2 linked regions of the Homo sapiens genome follow. The protein of the gene in region 1 purifies or fractionates together with the protein of each later gene. This does not show direct contact. Each region holds a gene or a part of one and is shown on either strand. Other genes may lie near its edges. The genes, in order: OPN4 and NDFIP1.

Region 1 (7,100 bases):
ATTCACTGGTTTCCTTGAGTCCCTCTAGGCCAAGGTCTCCCTAGAGGTTTCTCCCTAGGTTCCTCCTCCTGCGTGCCCTGACTGTGCTTTCCCATGGCTTCTCACGCTTCCCTCCTCCGCGGGTCCCCCTCCCACTCTCCCTCCAGTGTCACGTCCTGCCTGGACCCTGCCCTGCACACTGTCTCTGTAATCCTCATGCTTGGGGATGGCCAAGGGCAGAGGAGCTGATGGCTGTGCACCACGGCCGGGCCAGGCACTTTCACCAGCCTCGGCTCCTGTCATCATCCATCTTTGCATCTACCCTGAGGGAGGCGTCATTGTCCCCATTTTCCAGACAAGATGCTCCCACTCATGAAGTGACTTGCTCCGGTGCACAGCACTCAGTAAGTGGCTCATCTGTGGGGCAACGCACATCCGTGAACTTACTGCATCATCACAGTGACTCCACGAAGCACAGCTCTGTTTTGCGGAAAGAAAAGTGAGCTCAAGGAGGAGAAATGACGTGCCCAGTCCTTCAGCTGGCAGGTGGGAGAGCCAGGGGGCTGTGTGGCCCTGCAGCCTGGGTTCCCTTCTCCACCTGCCTGTCTCAGCCACTGAGCCAGGCAGGGGGGCAGATGGAGAGGGACACTGGGGGTGGGTGTCAGGGGTGTTTGAGGGACTTGAGGATGCTGGTCCCCAGGGCTGCTCTTTTTTTTTTTTTTTTTTTTTTGAGATGGAGTCTTGTTCTGTTGCCCAGGCTAGAGTGCAGTGGCATGATCTCGGTTCACTGCAAACTCCGCCTCCCAGGTTTAGGCGATTTTCCTGCCTCAGCCTCCCAAGCAGCTTGGATTATAGGCACACACCACCACACCTGGCTAATTTTTGTATTTTTAGTAGAGACGGGGGTTTCACCACATTGGCCAGGCTGGTCTCGAACCCTGATCTCAGGTGATCTGCTCGCCTTGGCCTCCCAAAGTGCTGGGATTACAGGCGGGAGCCACCACGCCTGGCCTAGAGCTGCTCTTCAACGCAGGGGGAGGATGCTCTCTGGGGCAGGTGACGGAGAGGTGCGCTGAGAGCAGGGCAGAATGGTCAGAGACCCACATACTCTGGGCACACACACCCTCCACAGAGGATGCACCTGGGTCTCAATTAGTGCCAGTCAGTCAAGTCTCCCTGGACCATTTTTGGCCCTTTCCGTGACCTTCAGGAAGGTCTGGGCCTGAGATCATCGAAGGCATGGCCCTGCCCTCCTTGCCTAGCCTCAACAGTGCCCTGGCCAGAGCTAGAGTCAACATTCCTGCCTGCATTTTCTTCCCTGTCTGCATGGCTGCCACCCTCAGTGCCCTGGGCCCAGCACCACCAACCAGGCACCTGCAGAAGGTATAGATGACCGTCAGGTTGCCCAGCATCCCCGTGAGTCCCACCAGCAAGATCACTGTGCCCAGGGTATAGTGGGCATGGTCTGGAACATCAACCGTGGGGAGGGGGACCCAGGCAGCAGCCCAAGTCCCAGGTGCCTGCGGAGAGACAGAGAAACGAGGGAATCATGTTATCGCTTGTCACCTTCAAATAGTCCTGAGAAGGAAGAGTTAGGATTCTCAACAGGGCAGGTGGGAAAACTGAGGCTCAGAGTGGCAAAGCCAGTTGCACACACAGCTCACAAGTGGCCAAAAGCAGAAGGGAAGTGCAGGTCCTTTCTAAAGTCCAGCCCAAGCTCCTAGAACATGGCACAGGGGCCTTCTAGGAGTGGGCTCAGATCACCTGCTGGAGGCTGGTAGGACAGACAGACATGTGACTGGCAAGCAGGGACATGGCCCTGGTCACCCTATCTTTCCTTAGGGAGAAGACAGAGCCAACTCCTGGGTGCATCCCTGCCTGCAGTATGGACTCCAGCCCAAGGGCCCAAGACAGTTTTTGAGGCCTCTAGACGCTGGGGTGGTGAGTCGGGTGGAGCCCCTCTCAAGAGTCCCGTCCCCTACTGAGCCTTAGAGGAGAAGCTGCATTGCCCAATAGCATAGCTGGGTACAGCTAACCTTGATGCCTGGCATGAAAATGAAGGGAATTCCCTTTAGAAAGAAAGCTTAGGCCTCCCAGGGTCACTGAAGGGAGGTCATGACCATATCAGGTCAGGACAAAGGGATTTAAAGACTCCTCCCACCCTAACCCCTTTCTGGGGAAGAGAGGGTGGCTTGGTCTCTGTCCTGCCGCAGTGGCCCCTATAGCTACCGGAGCCTTCCCATCCTGTCCAGCACCTGGGCCAGCATCCCCAGGTCCTGAGGGTGCCCTCGGCCTTCCCCAGGTAGCAGTGGTGTTGATGGAATATGGCCCTGGGCCTGGGCTAGGATGATGGAGGTGGCAGAAGGCACCCAAGGCTTCACTGTGGGCTTGGCAGATCCAGAGGCCCAGGGTGTGCCCTCCTCCCTGGAGGGCTCCATGGGGCATCCGAGCAACCTCTGAAAGGAATGAGTGCAGCCAAGGACAGGTCTGGCCATTCCAGCCCCTTGTCCTCAGGGCTGGCATTTCTGTTCCTTGAATGCTCTCCATGAGGAAGGACATTGCCTGCACCCTCCTCTATCAGCCTGTTTATCAGGGGCGGGCTCAGAGAGGTCCAGTAATGGCTCAAGGCCCCACAGCAGAGTTCAGACCTTTTCTATCTCCCTGTCAAAGCCCCTGTGTGTGGCCAGGAGGGGACCAGGAAGGGGTCAGGGAAGGCTCTGTGCATGCACATGCTCGCCCAGGCTTACTGTGGGACTGATGGATGGAAGCCGGCCCAGGCTGGAGATGCTGCTCTGGGAGCTGTCCCACCAGCTGGGTGGTGCTGGGGTGGCCATGCAGCTGGGCTCTTGGGTTGGGCTGGGCGGGACTCTTGGCCCCGAAGGAGGGTTCATCCTGAGTTGGGATGGTCCTTGCTCGAGCCCACAGAGAAGTCAAGGGCACAGGGAGCTCAGGACTTCAGCTGTGCTCAGCCTCCCAACTTTCCTCCATCCTCAGCACCCCTGCTTAGCCTACCCGCTGCTTTCTCCTGTGTCCGGCGCAGATCCAGCCTGGAGCTGCTCTTGGGGCTGGCGGTTGCTCTGTGTCTGGTGAAGCGCAAATGAGTGAGTGTCGCAGTTATGGTGACTCACAGCCACAGAGTTCATCCCCATCTTTATATAGCGATGTGGGAGCTGCACATGCTCAGTCGCTCCATGCCGCCAGCTCACTCAGACCAAGGTCTCTGGGTGTCTATCTACGAAGGTCTGATGATGGTGGCGTGAATGTGTATGTGTGAGTGTGTGTGTGTGTGTGTGTGTGTTTCAAGGGAGACTTCTGGAATGATGGTGGCATGAATGTGTGTGTGAGTGTGTGTGTTTCAAGGGAGATTTCTGGATGATGGTGGTGTGAATGTGAGTGTGTGTGAGTGTGTGTGTGTGAGTGTGTGAAAGTGTGTGTTTCAAAGGAGACTTCTGGGATGATGGCGTAAATGTGTATGTGAGTGTGTATGTGTTTCAAGGGAGATTTCTGGGATGGTGTCATGAATGTGTGCGTGTGTGTGTGTGTGTGTGTGAGGGTTCGTGAGTGTGTGTGTTTCAAGGAAGATTTCTGGGATGGTGTTGGGAATGTGTGTGAGTGTGTGTGTGTGTGAGTGTGTATGTGTTTCAAGGGAGATTTCTGGGATGATGGTGGTGTGAATGTGTATGTGTGTGAGTGTGTGTGTTTCAAGGGAGATTTCTGAGCTGACAGTGGTGTCAATGTGTGAGTGTGTGTGCATGTGAGTGTGTGTGAGTGTGAGTGAGTGAGAGCATGTGTGTGTGTGAGAGTGTGTGTGAGAGTGTGTGTTTCAAGGGAGATTCCTGGGCTCGGGCTCTTGGACATTGGGCAGAAGGCTGTGTCCTCTCCTTTGACCAGTCTCTGTTGTGTTTCTTCCCTGAGCTCATCAAGAGCAGCCTCAGCCATCCCAAGAGCCCCCAGAGCTGTTTGTGGGCAGCTGAGCCTGTGCAGCCCAGCCTCACCCTTGTCACAGTGGGCCCTACCACCATGTTTGGCCCCCATGAGCCATGGCATTTTCACAGTCACCCTGCATAGAACCAAGGCTGGTCACCCTTTCACAGATGGAGACACAAGGAGGATGTAGCAGTAGGGTGAGATCAGATCACGAGGCGGCTTTTGCTTGTTTTTTGATAAGAAAGTTTTATTTTTTTATTTTTATTTTTTTTGAGACAGTCTTGCTCTGTCACCCAGCCTGGAGTGCAATGGTGCAATCTCAGCTCACTGCAACTTCCGCCTCCCAGGTCCAAGCAATTCTCCTGCCTCAGCCTCCCGAGTAGCTGGGATTACAGGCACTCGCCACCACACCTGGCTAATTTTTGTATATTTAGCAGAGGCAGGAGTTCACCATGTTGGCCAGGCTAGTCTCGAACTCCTGACCTCAGGTGATCCACCCACCTCGGCTTCCCAAAGTGCCAGGATTACAGGCGTGAGCCACTGGGCCCGGCAGAAATTTTTAAAGTATAAAGATTTTTTAAAACCTTATTGGGAGAGTCCCAGGAACTCACCCAGGCCTGCAGGCCTGATCCAAGTTGACTGGATGTCAGAAGTGGAGGGGACCCCGGGCCTGCCCCTTGCCCTGTCTTAGAGGAGGCAGCAGGAGCTGGAGAGAAGGGAAGCTGAACACACGGCTTCCAGGGAGGGCTGCTCGGGCTAGGCCTGCCACAGAGGCTGCGTTTAGGGGAGCCCGACCGGGCAGCGGTCATCCTAAGTGGGGGCCATGTCCTGGCACAGTGCTGGGAGTGTTGGAGCCCTGGAGTGGACAGAGATATCACTCCTCTTCCAGAAGTTCCCCCAGTCTTTACAAACAGTTCTCCTGGAGCCCCAGGTTTGAGCAGGAGAAGTGGGAGCAGCCTCACTGGGAGCGGGAGCTGTACTTCCTGCAGCTGCCAGCCCATGGCTCAGACTGCCTTCCTCCTGAGGCTCTTCCACTTCAGGGCTTTGGCTCACAGAGGCCACCCTGGGGGCAGGGTGAGGCTGAGGGGCCGGCTTTTCTTTCTGTCCCTAGGCTCAATGCCAGCTGCTTGCGTTTTAATGTAGGGGTTTAACAATTCCTCACAGCTGGGAGCAATTCTGAGTCAACACAACGTCCCATTCAATGTGGACCCCACTCTCCAACCTGCTAATTAAGAGAGGGTGCAGGTGATGGAGCAGGCACAGGAGTCCAGGGGAGAAGTGCTTGTCAGGTGGACACATGAGGCGGGAATCCACATACCCAGGGTGCCACAGGCCTCAAAGGAGCACCTCAGGGAAAGATCAGAGGACTCGGAACCCCCAGCCTGGGGCCTTTGGAAGCCCACGTCTCACCTGACAATGTCCTTTCTCCATGGGCCGTGCACTGCAGCCGTTGCGGGTGACACTGAGATCTCCTCAGGGCCCAACCCCCTCACTCCTGTGCTTCTGTCCCACTGGGGAGGCTCCCCATGGCGCTCTTGCTCCAAACCTTTGCATCCCACACCCACCTGGCAGCTCGTCTGCCCGGAGCCTGCCATCCAATGGAGCCAGGAGGGCCGCGTGGGAAGCCTCAGCCTCCAGATGTCTCCTATGACTACTGCTGCCCAAGCTGTCCTGGCTGGAAGCTGTGGTCTGATGGGTGGGAACCCTGACCTTCCATCACTCCCCTCCGACCAGGTGGCTCCTGTCTTCCTGGGTGCCTGGCTGTGCTCACCTTCCCTCAGCACTTCTCCTCCTCCTCTGCAAGCTTGGCTCAGGGTGGGGCCCGGCCTCTTGAGACCTGGGATTGTTGATGGTCTCATGGGCCTGTGCCATCCAAGAATCTCAACGCAGGGAAAAGTGTGGAAGGGGTCCTCAGAGTCCTCCCAGTCCCAACTCTGGCTGGTGCCCACTCCCTTGGAGACTGTCCTGGGCATCTCCTCCTCCCCCGGTGCCATTCCCGGGGGCAGGCTGACCTCAGTGCTTGGTGCCGGGTTTGCCGATGGTCCCAGGGACCTCTGCACTGATAGTGGGGCTAAGGTAGCCAGCCACATCTCCCCTTCCGTGGCCCCACTTTGCTCTGGTTCCTCCCTTCCAGCCATTGCTTCCTGCTGCAGCCCTAAAGGCAGGTGGAAACACAAATTCCACATAATCCCACACTTAACCCTTTGGTGGCTTCCACAGCTCTTAAGACAGAGACAGAGCCCAAACGTGGCGAGGCGGGTGGAGGGAGGTACTACATCACCTGGTATGTGGGGATAAGAAGTGGGCTTTAGGGGGAAGCACGTACACCGAGGCTCAGCAAGAAGAGGCACGCCATTTCCTCTATGCGTGCATGGGCAAGGCTGCTGTCACTGCATGGGACTCAGTGTCCCCAGGGACCTGCCCTTGCTCCTACCCCTTTTCCATGCATGCTTCAGAGTAGCCTTGTTTGTGGGACAAGCAGCCGAGCTCAGGCGCCAGGCAGTCTGGGTGTGACTGCCAGCTGATTGGGGAGGTGTCTGAGAGCTCCAGCTGCCAGCACCTGGAGACCTTGCTGGATTAGGCTGGATTAGCTGGATTAGGCCTTGCGGGAGGAGGAGGCCTGATACCTTGGGGAGCTGAGTTCAGGTGAGTCTTCTCTTGCTGAGAGAGGAGGAGCCACTGAATCTGCCTAACTCCGTGCCTGGAGACCAGGCTGGCCTCCTTTCAGACCACCGAAGGCACACAGCTCCTCTGGTCACCCAGCCTCTGCTCACACACTGCTCCTGAAACCTTCGCCTGTCCCCTGCTCTGGGTCTCAACTCAAATACCACCTCCCCCAGACTGCCAAGGGCCCAGCTGTTCACCTCCTCCTGTCCATCCCTCGGAGCATCTATGGATAGTGATAGTGTCATTTGCAGTGATTGTCATCTGACCATGTCTGTCTCCCTCCTTGGAATGCAAACAGGTCGGATTTGTTCACCTTTGAGACCCACTGCCTAGTAGAGCACCTGACACATTGTATCAGGAAATCCAAAATCTCCCTGGTCCTTGCTTCTCAAAGTGTGGCTGGAGGACTGGCTGCTGATGTGCACCCCTCCTGCAGCTTGTTAGAAACTCAGACTTCCCAGACCTGTGACTCAGGTGTGGACGCACGAGGTGTGTCTATCCTCATGTTAAATGGGAGAGGTGATGGT
Region 2 (7,278 bases), on another chromosome or scaffold:
CTCTAGATGATATATGGTGCCCACTTCATGTGCCTCAAAAGATTTTAATTTTCAGAACATTTAAACGATTAAAGAGAAATCATCCTCTTAACTAGGTATTTTAAAGCGTATCAAACTGTAGGTTTACATTTGACAAAGTCTTATGGACCACCAAATACGTAGAAATAGGAATTCCAAATATTTCAGTTCGTTGAATATACAAAACCAAATAAGGCGCAAGGACCTGAAGAATAAACACAAAGCTAGTCTACAATGTTTGAGTTAACGTGATTTAGGACCCTTCTATTTTGTTCTGCAAGATAATTTACATAGTTCTCTCTGCTATATGTGTCCACATCTATTCAGATTGTTACAGATCTTTTCATTCTGGAACTTAGAACATTATAGGCCATACAAACTTCCAAACTCCATTGTTGCTATAATCTGATTCGAAATGGAAAAAAAAAAATCTTCAAAGAAACTTCCATAAAACTCCCTTCTCTATTATCAAATATAACTTCTGAAAAAGAACACACTACACTATTATTCATAATAATCCATAAACTGGTTAGAGGGATCATTGAAATGTCAATCCAGGAGGCTCCTAATTTTCCTGTTTGGCTTTCAAACAACCCACACTTCTGTGCATTATATACTGATATCCTGAACGACTTCCTATGCTGATTCTGGATATACATACACAGCAGATGAATGGACATTTGCAGCTATCAGACTGTGCTGGTGCTGATTTGTGTAGTAATTTGACCATCTTGGTGTATTTTTTCTTCATATTTCTTAAATAGAAAATGAAAAAAATCAAATGGCTGATATCATAAAAACAACTGGTCTCTAAATTTAAGATTGAGACAAGAATAGAAATCAGGAGAAATGAGGAATCTTTAATTTCAACTGACTGAATGCTCACAGGACTCAAACCAGTTGGTGCATTCAACTGAGAAAAAGAACAAATGAGAACATGCAGAAAACACTGGAAATAAATTATCTAAAATTATGTCTAAAAATTGAAGCATAATTAGGAATTCCAGAATGATTTAAGATCTCTACAACTCCTCTCTACTTTTTTAGTCCATTATCTTTTACAGAACCAATGTTCAAATACATTTTTAGGAATGTATTTAGTAGGATATAAGAGGACTTCTTGTGCTGAAAATGAAGAAAAAAATTGACCCAACATTAGTTTTTTAATCGCATCTACTGAATGATTCCCTAAGATTAGAAAAAATTGCCTTAGCAATCAACAAATGCAAGCCAAGAAATTAAGCACTAATCTACAGTAAAAGGTGCTACACAAGAGATATTTATTAATGTTCTGTTGTATTTACAGTTTTAACATAGCAAACCAAGATGAATTACCACTTGGGCAGAAAGCACATCATTCTACATTATAACCCACTGGTTTCTGCTAACACATTGTAAAAGCAAGTAGTACAGTATGTTAGGGATCATCTCAAAAGTTCCAAGCTACTTCTTTCTTTGCTCCTAAGTACCTAATCCTCTCCTTACTCCCAGACTTTGGCCTAATCACCAGGAGACAAAAGGAAAATAAGGGGGGTGGGGGTGGGGGTGGGGGTGAAGAACGCTAATTATAGAAAGAGTGTCAAGAATTACATTTTAGTAATTAAGCTTCATTTGTATCCTAGTGCTTTCTGTTTTATACAGTGACAACACCTTTAGAATCCCTTAGGTACAATAAGGTACCGCAGAATTGTGAATACAGGCTATAAAAAATTAATGCTTATTATTTACCAATTAAAGACTTATTTTTGACCACACCTTAAATGTATTTTTGCACTATGATTTTGCTTCCAGGTGTTCATACAGAATTGAATAAATTTCTAGATTAACTTGAACAGCAAATATGGATTATGTGCAAAAACACAGTCATAGCAAAAGTTTAACTTTTGAGAAAACCCCTTTAAAATGGCCAGCATTATACATATCTTACAATATTTAATTCCAAGTTCATTTTGAGATGGAGGATGAATAAAGCAAGACTGCCCCCTACCGACTACAGGGACATGGCTCATGCTACTTAAAATGACTACAAACAATATATAAGGCATTATTAATACATCACAGACTTGATTGCAAGAGCTTTTTCAAACATTAACCACTAATGATTCAATGATTACAGAATTCTGCATTAACTATTAAAATTTTACACCTAGGAACAAATAGAGAGAAATGATCTTTTCAACAGTACTTTATTTTTTTAAAGCAGGTGATTATTCCTCTGTGTTCTGCATCTTGATTCACTTCCTGCAGGTGTTCTCTTGCTTCTTGAGAGAGAATTCATAAATGCAGGAAGGCCTTTGCCAGAAAACATCTGCCAGAGAAGGATATTGAATATTGAAACTCTAGTTAGCTTGTTATTTTGGCTAAGAGAAGGATGTAGTCACAAAAGAAGGCAGGATGTTTGGAGACACAAGTGCATTTTAACATAGTTTTAAGATTACTGTATACTGACATCACGGTATTCAATAAACATTAAAATTTCAGTTCTTAAAGTTATCAAGGCCTCTAGAACTAGAAAAAACTGGAATGCTTTTTCTAAAAACTCCTGAAGTCAGGAGTCTCTCTTTCCAAACCTCTTAACAAAAGAATACAATGGAAGCAGTGCTACTGCGCATCCCACACTGAACGCTGTCAGCAATGACTGAAACTTGGGACAGAGAGCATAATCCAAGTGCACAAGTAATTTTCCTAATATACCTGAAGATACTGTTTACCCTAACAATTCCACTAGATATTGCACAAGGAAGCTTTCCAGTAAGGATGCCAACCATGTCATGCTATACCTCAACCGAGCATGGCAAAATTAGAAAACAAGGATAAACTCACAGGTACCACAAATACTTTTAAAAAACAAGTTTTCCTAAAAAGTCATTGTATTTGGGGCATGTTTCTCTTAAAATAATACATGTACTTTCAAACTAAATTTTAAGAAAGGAATATATCTGACTGAAATAAATGCTCTCGAAATAATGCCTACGCATTTTACTAAATGCAGTTTTCATCTAATACTTTGAGGCATTTCTGTACTAGTATATTGTTTTGGTTCTCATGAAAATAACTTGGGAAAAACTACAAGTAATTCCCTATATTAACAATAAAAGAAGAACTATTAAGAATAAAAGAAGAAACACTAAAGAGATACATTTACTGCTTAATAAACATTTATTGAGAAACTATTTTGTGGTACTCAGCAAGAAGTGAGAGTTGGATGGGCTCAAATATCGGCCTATAACTTACTTTTCTATCCTCCAAATTACTATAAAAGCCACAAGAAACTCTTCTATGTCTTTTCTTTCTTTTCTTTTCTTTTTTTTTTTTTTGGAGACAAGAGTCTGTCACTCAGGCTGGAGTGCAGTGGCGCGAGCTCGGCTCACTGCAACCTACACCTCCAGGGCTCAAGCCAACCTTCTGCCTCAGCCCCGCAAGTGACTGGCACTAACAGGCGTGCACCACTATGCCCGGTGTCTTCTGTATCTTTTCTGATTAGATTACTGCGTAAGTATTTAAAAGGCTGCCAAAATGGAGAGAGACTACAAACACACTGGAGGAAATGAACATATTTTAATATTATCAACATTTTTCCAAACTATAAATTCATTTGTGTTGTGATTTGAAGTAAACCACTGAAACTGATACAAGGACATCTTTTCTTTAGATTGAGAGACATAAGAGATTGAAAGACCTCGGAAAGCACAGAGACAGAGACACAAAAATATGAGGAACTCTAAAAGCCAAGCAGAAGCAAAAAAGAAAATTGGCAGATGAATATTAAATGAATGTTTTTGCAATGAGGCCAGACTCATTATAAACATAAATAATTTGTTTTATCAGTTTCTATATATTTTTTTTTTTTTTTTTTTTGAGACGGAGTCCCGCTCTATCACCCAGGCTGGAGTGCAGTGGCACAATTTCGGCTCACTGCAAGCTCCGCCCCCCGGGTTCATGCTGTTCTCCTGCCTCAGCCTCCCGAGTAGCTGGGACTACAGGCGCCCGCCACCACACCCAGCTGATTTTTTGTATTTTTAGTAGAGACGGGGTTTCACTGTGTTAGCCAGGATGGTCTTGATCTCCTGACCTCGTGATCTGCCCGCCTTGGCTTCCCAAAGTGCTGGGATTACAGGCGTGAGCCACCATGCCTGGCCCAGTTTCTTTTAATAGATGAAAACTGATGAAACAGTGACTAGTAGGTCAAAACAGAGTTTGCAAGAATATACAATATGGTACGGACAATTACCTGGCCACTTCCTTAGTTTATGATGCTTTAGCATAGGTAAACAGCTTTAATAGATCCCTCAAAGTCAAAGCCTGACACCCAACAAACATTAAAAATCCCTTTGCTTGTTCAGTAAGAGAAGTAAAAATTAAATTAAAATAAAATATCTCAAGAGGACCTAGAGAGGTCACCAGTGGGTAATCTCAATCACCACACAATCTCCAAATGAAAGACTGCTAGAGGGCACTGCTGTCTGAGACTTGGAGGCTTGAGTGGCAGTGTTACAGAAATGCTGGCAGTACACAAACTGAAGAACAAACAGATCTTAGGGACTCTGGACCGTATTACTAAATTATAGATCAGATCACTTTGTAAAAAAAAAAAAAAAAAAAAAGGAATCCAATAGCCTACAGATCATTTAATTCCAAGAGGAAGACAACCAGTTCTTCTTGGAGACATGTAAATTTTGTTTAGCAAAAATTCTACTGGAAACACCATTTCCCTATTATCTTGCTATCTTATAACATAGTCCAATAAGTAAACCTTTACCTTGAGATGAATTTCCTTTAATAAAATAAAAGAAGTATTAAGGAACAGGAGAAAAATTACAGAAAAGGAGAAATGAAAGTGTCTGTTATCACATGGAAAAAAATTAAAATATTTGATGCCTAATAGGTACAGCTCACTAGGTCACTTTTTTAATTATGAAGGCCCTAGCTCATTAATGCTAGGGCTCAAAAACCTCCTTTTTTCCTTCTATTTCAGATGCAGTTAAAATAAATAATTTTAAAATATATTATGCTTCATATGTACAAGTGCTTTTGGTACCACACAAATAGTGTTAGATATAACCAATCAACTGTGTTACCACCTTATTACTGTAGCTAACTCCTCATTCACCTGGCAGCATCAGAGGAGGTGGTAATCCATAAAAATGTATTTTCCAGTGAACTGGTAAATAAGAAAAGTATAAACACTTTACATTTTTTACCATTTCAGGTACAGATGTTTATAACAGGTATCTGTTTCTTCTGCTTCCTCAGTCACATACTTTTTTTTTTTTTTTTTTTTTTTTTTTGAGACAGAGTCTCGCTCTGTCGCCCAGGCTGGAGTGCAGTGGTGTGATCTTGGCTCACTGCAACCTCCACCTCCTGGGTTCAAGCGATTCTTCTGCCTCAGCCTCCCAAGTAGCTGGGATTACAGGTGCACACCACCACACCCAGATAATTTTTGTATCTTTAGTAGAGACGGGGTTTTGTCATGTTGCCCAGGCTGGTCTCAAACTTCTAACCTCAGGTGACCTGCCCACCTCGGCCTCCCAAAGTGCTGGGATTACAGGCGTGAGCCACTGCGCCCGGCCCAGTCACATACTTCTTGATGGCCACTGTGCACACCTTTAGCAGTTCCTTCTGGCATTTTGTTATGAAGTAGGAAAACAGATAACAGCTTATTAATACATTTTTCCCTCCCTTAAGCTTAAATGGACTCTGAAAAGGAACCTGAGAGCTGCCCCTATGATAGTAGTACATGAGCTTTAATGTTTAGCTTTTGTAATATCTACTTTGACTGATTAGAAGGAGGTGTTTTGGGATCACTTCAAGATTGGTTTATTTGTACTATATTTCAGGTAGCCTGACTAGAAAAGTCACTATTCTTATGCCCTTTTCTAGTAAAATGCCAAATCTTAGTACAATATGGAAAGTATATTATTTTTCTGTTTTGGTAAAGTTATTTTAAAAATTCTGTATCTGTATCTTTCTGGCAAAGTTATTTTAAAAATTCCCTACCTGTGTCTTTCTTCAGCTACCTTTTAATTGGTGACATCTCCATCAAAGAAGTAGAAGTCCATAAAAGAAAATAAAGCTTTTGGGAACACTGACCCCATTTTCTAAAGTTTGTGTTCTCTGATTGGCCATTCCCAGCTTTCTACTTGCATAAACTCTGTATTCTGATCCTTTTGATGGCTTCAGGTTGACAATGTCAAGAGAGGCAATTTAGCAGAGTAGTCACTAGTTTACCAGTGATTTTCCTCAGCAGGAGTTAGCCTAGGATTTTTAAACTACATTTTCCCTCTCCCCTATCCCTATCTCCCTAGAAGAATCACTGTACATGACAGTTAGAAATAAGATCAAATTTATCCTTTAGTAATTTGACTGCCTGCTAGGCAAAAACTCAACAACCTTCTGACAAAATTCAGAGCTCATAATCTCTACAACATGATAATTAACAATGCTGCAACAAAGAAATAACTGGCCAGGTGTGTAAAAACAGGAAAATGTAACCCAGAGTCAAGAGAAAAATCCATCAATACAAATAGACTTATCTAACCTGATGTTGGAATTAGCAGATAATTACTTTTTAAAAACTGTGATAAGCATAATAAAGAATCGATAGGGAGGAAAAAAATAAAGCTTTCTTACTTCACATGACGGTTTTCTAGTATGTCTTCTAACAAAATTAAACTAAATGTCCTCTGAACTAGAGAAAGAAGGGATTCTACATCTGGATCTGGACAGAGTTCTTACCCTTTCAGTGGACAAAGGGAACTCAGTCCCATAGGATATTATGGCTTTTCAGGTTCCCTCTGGGGATCCCTGGAAAATTAGTGAAGTCATTAGAATTCTAAATTCTGCTGTAAGTTCCTCAAACCCTTAATTTAGAGCTCTGAATTCTCTGGGTGTGTCAGGAATGATTTCAAATAAACCAGGGTATCACAGTTAAATAGAAAAGCAAATAAACTCTATTATGCCCTCCAATGGTGTGCATTCATTTACCTCTGAGAAAGTTTCTGACAACTCTTAACGTACACTCCTGAAGCACCAGCAGGCTCAACACTTGAATCTCCCTTAGTACTTCCTACAACATTATTATTACTAAGGACTGCCTACTTCAAATCACAACCCCACATACATAGTTTTAAATTTAGAATATCAAAAAACATTTCAGAAATTTTAGAAAATCCAAACAATAACAACAAAATTTTCAGTAAAGCACCAAACAACACAGGAAAACTGAGACGTTCAGGCTTTCTGTCAACTGGGCTGCTATTT

Evidence for each region.
Region 2: the proteins of OPN4 (region 1) and NDFIP1 purify together in Homo sapiens (affinity purification with mass spectrometry; 3 studies listed by BioGRID and IntAct, with this or other methods). This does not show direct contact.

Annotation. Positions count from the first base shown.
Region 1 is NC_000010.11:86,650,554-86,657,653, reverse strand, and holds the start of OPN4 (melanopsin), read right to left. Parts: upstream 3,108-7,100; 5' UTR 2,871-3,107; coding exon 2,727-2,870; intron 1,500-2,726; coding exon 1,354-1,499; intron 460-1,353; coding exon of another isoform or gene 427-459; intron 1-426. UniProt on the Homo sapiens protein: Photoreceptor that binds cis-retinaldehydes. Contributes to pupillar reflex, photoentrainment and other non-image forming responses to light. May be involved in the optokinetic visual tracking response.
Region 2 is NC_000005.10:142,146,779-142,154,056, reverse strand, and holds part of NDFIP1 (NEDD4 family-interacting protein 1), read right to left. Parts: intron 2,327-7,278; 3' UTR 1-2,326. UniProt on the Homo sapiens protein: Activates HECT domain-containing E3 ubiquitin-protein ligases, including NEDD4 and ITCH, and consequently modulates the stability of their targets. As a result, controls many cellular processes.